Homo sapiens: one gene and its partner. The protein of the gene in region 2 purifies or fractionates together with the protein of the main gene of each other region. This does not show direct contact. Each region holds a gene or a part of one and is shown on either strand. Other genes may lie near its edges.

The links.
Region 1: the proteins of HEATR5A (region 2) and ANKRD22 purify together in Homo sapiens (co-immunoprecipitation; one large-scale study listed by IntAct). This does not show direct contact.

Annotation. Positions count from the first base shown.
Region 1 is NC_000010.11:88,831,167-88,834,994, forward strand, and holds part of ANKRD22 (ankyrin repeat domain-containing protein 22), read right to left. Parts: intron 861-3,828; coding exon 669-860; intron 1-668.
Region 2 is NC_000014.9:31,291,551-31,295,378, forward strand, and holds the end of HEATR5A (HEAT repeat-containing protein 5A), read right to left. Parts: intron 2,555-3,828; coding exon 2,341-2,554; intron 2,063-2,340; coding exon 1,755-2,062; 3' UTR 238-1,754; downstream 1-237.

The DNA of each region.
Region 1 (3,828 bases), on a different chromosome or scaffold from region 2:
TATTGCCTTCACTACGATGCAAATGCTAGATGTTCAGAAAGGGCTCCACAAGGATTTTCACAGCAATACACACATATTCTTCTCTTTCTTGGTCCTGAAGGCTCCAAAGTAGCTAATATTGCATCTTTAAATATATTCTTTACACCTTTTTGTGTGACTTCAAGTAACCTCTGGCTCATGAGCTTATTTGTCCTTGGTAAATTTCTCAATAGTACTCTTTCATTCTACAAGAACACTATAGGATCCTCTGGAGATCAGGACATTAATATAGCAGGTAAAAATCTAACTAATGAAACAGCATTTCTTTTCCAAGAAATCTTTGCCATTGCTTCTGTGTTAGTAATGAGAAAGAGGGGAGAGGAAGAAAGAGGAGGATGAAGAGAGGAAGAAGGAAAAGAAAGAAGCTCTATCCAGCCAAATAAGTGAACCAGAGGTAAAAAGACATAATTTATCACAAATTATGCCTGCTGATTGAACTATGTTTTATTTTGCTGTTTAGCCTAATAAAATGTCCTTGGTATGTGTCAGTCTTTCTAAAGTAGGCTAAGATAATTGTTCGTATTAGGAGCTGCAAGCAATTTAAAAAATGACATGCACCACTTCTAGTGATTCAAAGAGAAAAGAATTATCATGAACAATTACACTCTCCATTCATGTCATGACCTCACCTGGTTTTTGAGGTTGACATTAGCATTTCTTCTTAAAAGGAAGGAAACGATTCTCACATGCCCTCGCCTGCAAGCACAGATCAGGGGCGTGTCTCCATTAAAGCCATCTTGAACGTTGGCATAGCTGCTGTCTTCTTTCACCCACCGCCACACTTGTCCAAAGTCATTCTGATAGGCTGCTTGGCAGATGGGCTGGGTCGGGAAAAACAAAAGCAGGTTTTGAAATACTGGCATAATTAAACCACAAAAACGAAAAAAAAGTCATAACCCAATACATTAAAATTTAAATGTTTTAAAATTGTAATATATTGCTTTGCAGGTGAGATTTTTTGGTCTCAGTTATGCCTAGCTTTAAGTCTAGATCAAGAATTAGCCCATGAGGAACCTCCTACATTTTCCTAAGTTTTCTTGGCACACACTTATGTCCATCAAATGGATGAATAAATAAATGAAATACTACAAATTCAACTCAGTAAGGAAACTATGTATAGTGCTTACAGGTAGGTGGGCCTGTCGGAAAAGCATTCATTTTCTTTACTAAAGATAAAATACCTTTATCTTTATCTTTACTAAAGACAAAATACCTTTATCTTTATCTTTACTAAAGACAAAATACCTTTATCTTTATCTTTACTAAAGATAAAATATCTTTATCTTTAGTAAAGACAAAATGTCTTTATCTTTATCTTTACTAAAGATAAAATGTCTTTATCTTTATCTTTACTAAAGATAAAATAGAAAACAAGCATATGGGGAGGAGTTTAGGGCAGTACTAGTGATGAAATAAGACCTACATAGCACCCTGTATTCAAGGAGCTCAACAGAGCAGAAAAGACAGTTTTTTAGGCAAATAATATACAAATTATATGGTTAACTACACTTGATTAGATGCTGTTTATAAAAAGCATTATACAGAGCTTCACAAGGCACCATGGGAGTTTAATAGCAAGACTTCAGGTAGCATGATCTTGTCCTCTTTCCCTCCTCTGCTCCAGCCTTTCTCGACTTCTGTTCTTCAAAGTTTGGTTGAACCAAACCATGTTTGGTACCTTCCATCTGGGCTTCTGCCCTGAATACTCTCTCTGCATAAAACACACCACCTGCCTTTCTTCTGAATAACACCTAGCTCACCCTTCATGTCATAATTTAATTTTCATTTTATCCAAGAAGTCTTTTCTTACTCCCAACATTCAGTATCTCTCCCTCACAGCAACTGACATACTGTAATTCTTTTCTTAATTATGTACAATCATGTATTTAGGGCTAGCATGAATCAGGAGAGGTTTGAGGCAGTGCTGAGAAGGAAGGCACTGAAGTTCAGGCCGTAAACCCCATTTTATTTACTGCTATTTCTCCAGCATTCAACACAGCACTCAGCACATGGGAGGCAAACACTGAATATTTTTAGACTAATCTTCAGATGATGTCTTTTAAAAAGCATTTAGAGTAATACCTGGCATATGGATGGTGCTTAGTGTATGAAAGTTATCATTATTGCAATTGTCATTCTTTAATAATCAAGTCAAATCCCTGCTGTGTGCCAGTCACAGGTACCAGAGAATAAAATATGTTATCTTATCCATGTAAAATGTATCTGTCAAGTGGGGAAATAGGACAGAGACACACATACACAGAGTAAATGACAAGAAAAAAATTTTTTGGTATGGGTAGGTACATAAGCACCTGTGGAAACTGGGACGTATCAAGGGGAAAGTCAAGTGGGTGTATTTGCTAATAAACTGAGGTTCTAACATAGCCAAATATCACAATAAGTGAACTATGTTATACTCTTAAACCTAAAGGCCTACTCATGAAAGAAACATCCTAACAGAAAATTAACTCAGCAGCAATTAAAGGCAAACTTCTGTACCTTAAAAATGAAATGAACATGATACATGGGCTTTAAGTTTCACTAGAAATGCACAATTTCACAAATCACCTATTCTGTTATCCTGAAGTCTTCCCTTTACTAAGCTTTCCAACAGTTGGGCACTTCAGTGTCTCAGCATACTGTGTGGCTGATGCAGAAAGGACTGGGGCAGTTGAAACACTTGTCTCATGTCAGAAAAACAGGATGTAATTGTGGCTCTGTTACTACCTCCCCCGGTGACTGTGGACAATTCACTTCCCTACTGTATCTCAGTGTCCTCAGTCATTAAATGAAGGAGTAAGGCAGAAGTTCCCTTGGGTTTTCATATTCGATTATTTCTGGGACTCTAGTCTCAACCAACAAATCTTCCACATCACTGCTGGAGTCCAGGGTTATGTCAACACAATAGTGCTTAAATAAAACCTTCAGTGACTTGCCATTGTCCTAGCAGCAATGCCCAGTCATTTGGAGTTCAAAAATAAGTAAAACAAAACTAAATGCAACAAGACAGTGTTAAGTCACCAACTCTTAATTTTTCAATTAAATGTATTTAAAACAATACTATTATTTCATAAAAGATATTTTAACAAATACAAAGATAAATGAAGGGTATTTTAACAAAATATGTAAGAATATAATCACCAGGGGGAAAGCAGTTCTTTATATTGGGTAGATTTAGTTAGCTTTATAGAAAAATTCATTTTATTGTCCTTTTAAAAGATTTTACCATAAACTAGTGAAAATTTAATAATGGAGTGATTAGCAGTGAGCACTACTCATCAAGCATTTGGAAATTGGTGGTCTACCATGAATAGCTTGGAAACAAGTGGCTTTAGAGCTCTTTTTCTCTTTTCTCAAATATTTAAATAACTTAACAACATTTAAAAAACTAGAATATTTCATGTATTAATCTGGCTTTCCAGCTTCTCTTTAAAAATGGAAAGTTTTGGCTGGGCGCGATGGCTTACGCCTGTAATCCTAGCACTTTGGGAGGCCGAGGTGGGTGGATCACCTGAGGTCAGGAGTTCGAGATCAGCCTGGCCAACATGGAGAAACCCCATCCCTATTAAAAATACAAAAATAAAAAAATTAGCAGGGCATGGTGTCTGGTGCCTATAATCCCAGCTACTCTGGAGGCTGAGACAGGAGAATCGCTTGATTCGGCAGTGAGCCGAAATCGCGCCACTTCATTCCAGCCTGGGCGACACAGCGAAACTCTGCCTCAAAAAAAGAAAAAAAAAGAAAGAAAAAAAAGAGAAAGTTTTGCTAACACTGGGCCCATATTCCTGT
Region 2 (3,828 bases):
AGGAGTGGGCAATCACCAGACAGAAGACAGGAGAGAAAAGGACATTTTAGGTAAAGGGAACAATAAATATACACTCAATGCCTAGAGACACTTAGGAAGAGACAGAGAATCTAAACCATCACAAATAATGCTCCAAAGAAAGGGCTCTTCTGAGAAAAAAGGCTGATTTTCTGGAATCCATGTGAGAGAAACCAACCTGCCATCTTTTGTTGGTAAAATAATTTAAAAATACAAGAATGATAATGAAAATTAGCTTTATTTATGTAATTTAGAAAAAATGATTGTAGTGTTAGAGTTTGTCAAATGTTTTCACTCTGAACAATTTACAATAGTATTTATATACAAACATAATAAAATAGGTACATCACATTGTTCTTGCTTCAAAATGTCTTCTCAATTCTGACATGCTTCTATCACTTCGGTTTGTAATTTTTAAGAGGGAAATGCTCTGTTTTGACACAGTGCTTGATTCACACAGTATAACACTGAAGTAGAAGGAGAATCAACAATCATGAACACAGTTAAAAAATATTTTTCAACCAATATGACTTTATCATTAATCTTTTTTCTATAATAAAATGTTTCCTGTTAAAAAAAATACTTGTATTCACCTGATGACCTAAATTTGTTGTACTAAATTTGGCATTTATATAAACCCATAGTTGATCTAAATACAATGTAGATATGAACCTAGGTTAAAACTCATTGATACAAATGTTTGCCACAAATGAAAATGAACAAAATTGGTAAGAACAGAGGTAAACAGAAAAATCCATTTGAAAAATAGTGGAAATGGCTTATTCTATTTAAAATGAGTAAGACTCAATTTCTGAACCCAATATAAACTAAACCAAAAGATGGTGGAAAACCATGATATAGACACCAAATCTTATGTTGCACTGTAAGGCTGTAAGTAATTTGTACTATTGTATACTGGATAATCCTAGACCAGGTTTCCTAAATAGCTCTCCAATCATTTTATCTTCTTGGAGAAATCAGAGAAAGTTTAATACAATTACTGAATAAGGCAGAATTTTTTTTTTTTTTTTTTAGATGGAGTCTCACTCTGTCGCCCAGGCTGGAGTGCAGTGGCACAATCTTGGCTCACTGCAACCTCTGCCTGCCAGGTTCAAGCGATTTTCCTGCCTCGGCCTCCTGAGTAGCTGGGATTACAGGTGTGTGCCACCACACCCGGCTAATTTTTGTATTTTTAGTAGAGACGGGGTTTCACCATGTTGGTCAGGCTGGTCTCAAACTCCCGACTTCGTGATCCGCCCGCCTTGGCCTTCCAAAGTGCTGGAATTACAGGGATGAGCCACTGTGCCGGGCCAAAGCAGAATTTTAAATCAGCAATTGGGATACAATATTAGTGCAGATAATTTACACTAGAGTCATATTTATATCTGTCACAGTATTAAGTATACCACATATGTATGGACTGTTAGAAGAAATTCATTTCATTTTTAAAGCAGTGGATTGTTTAGTAAGTTTAGTTCTTTAGCACTTTCTTAAAATTCCTGGCAAGTTAGCTCCATTGTCTTTTTAAATAGAAAAACAAAACAAAACAAAACACAAACCCCACGCACACACACAAAAATGTTAAGTATGCTGTTACTTTGAAGAGTCACAGCTATTTAAGGTAAAACAATCAACTAGACCTCTAAGGGCACTTGTGTCTACAATGTCCCTTTTGTCACCAAAGGCAATGATCAAGTATTTATTATATTAAGGTGCTTACTATTCCAAAAAAAAAATCAGAGGAAACTGGTCTTTAATTGGATGCTTGAGTTTTTTCCAGGACTCTTAGTATATTTAGATGTTGGTATCTTGACTTTGACACTTTCCTGATTGCCCTTTATAGCAGCCTCAAGGCGGGCTTTTAGGGCTGGAGAAGAAGCCACTAAACTTTTAAAAACAGATGAATACTGAGGTCCAATTTGCATGAGATTTTGTAGAGCAAAGTCATGTAAATTTCTCATTATGGAAGTTGCTGATCCCAGAGAATTTTCATCCAAAAGGAAGGAAATGAGGATGGGCAAAAGACAGGCCACCAGCTGAGCGCCTAGAAAGTAAACAAATAATATAAGTTCAGTGACATAAATGTTTCTAACAAAAGCCTGCAAATGCACTTGATCTGTATACATTTTTCCCCACTAAAGAAAACAATTCGTCCAATCTCTTCTAAATTAATACTAAATAATATCAATACTTGGGATTAACATAACACCTTTCAATGAATGTGAAATACAGATATAATGTGACTGATTGTTTTGCAATTTAAATAACAGTAAAATTCTGATTTTTGTTGAGACTGAGTATGAATTTAGTGCTGACACTTACGATGGTGTTCTTCAGCAACAGTAACCAGTGTTTCTAAGACCTTTATGCCTTCTTGGAAGATCTCAAGCTCAGCAGTGTTTTCAGGTTTTCTCTTGTCTATTTCCTGCAGTTTTTCCATGATACAGGATGCTAAAGAGTAAATGTATGGGTAGGAAACAGCTGGATTTGGATACTGAAAGATGGAATGTAGGAGCTGGTAGGTCTTGATTTGTACCTAATAAGGTAAGAGAAAAGAATAGCAAATACTATAAATAAATTTTTAAAAAGTCCCTGAGGACTCTTTGCTTTTTAAAGTAGTGAAGGTATTTAAATTTATTTCTAATTTGTGTTTAATTTTGAAAGTCCAAGGGCCAACAGGTAATCAAACATCTATGCTAACAGTGGTTGTGACAGTTTGGAATGGGAAAGAGGCATATAGGTAAACAGGGAAGCAAAGCTGAGTGTTAATTTTTCTTCTTTTCTCTAATTCCCATTTTCCCCCTCATGTCTTTCTCTATAATGTAAAAAACAAAAACACCACCAAAACCCCTCCTGTAACATTTTTTTTTTTTTTTGAGTGCCCAGGCTGGAGTGCAGTGGTGTGATCTCAGCTCACTGCAACCTCTGCCTCCTGTGTTCAAGTGATTCTCCTGTTTCAACCTCCCGAGTCGCTGGGACTACAGGCGTGCACCTCCACACCCAGCTAATTTTTTGTATTTTTAGTAGAGACGGGGTTTCACCTCGTTGGTCAGGCTGGTCTCGAACTCCTGACCTCAAGTGATCCACCTGCCTTGGCCTCCCGAAGTGCTGGGATTACAGACATGAGCCACCGTGCCCAACCTCCTAACATTTTTATGGGTAGAAAGCAAAACAAAACAAAACAAAAAAACACCCAAAACAAAACACATACAACCTTGAAAGATATTTTGTTGATTTCAGAAAATGTTTTAGACAAAAATGATGTATTTGATGTTCAAATGTCATGGTCTGAGTGTTTCAAGGAACGTCTGGACCATACTAATGTGTCATCAGGCATCAGAGTCCCGACTTGGAGACTGCTATACAAAGCTGCTGCAGGCAGCAGGCAACAGGACAGACGATAAAAGGAAATGACTATACATCAAAGATATAAATAAACTTTTATTGAGTTAACTGTAATGGTATTTTAATAATTATTTTTTCTGAGAGAAAATCTGGTTCCTGTATCTTCAGGAGTAGATATATGTGTGATCATTGGCTATGAACTCACCTAGAGGCACATAAAAAATAGGACATTACTCAAGCAAATGAAGGGGACATAAAAGAATGGGATAAATTTGTGTGTATTGCTTTTGGAATGGGTCCTGTTATTTCACATTCATATTACTGAAGGTATGTGCTGGAGTCTTTTTTTTGAGACAGCGTCTGGCTCTGTCATCCAGGCTGCGGTGCAGTGGCATGATCGTGGCTCACTGCAGCCTCAAGGTCCCAGGCTCGAGTGATCCTCCTGCCTCAGTCCCCCAGAGCAGC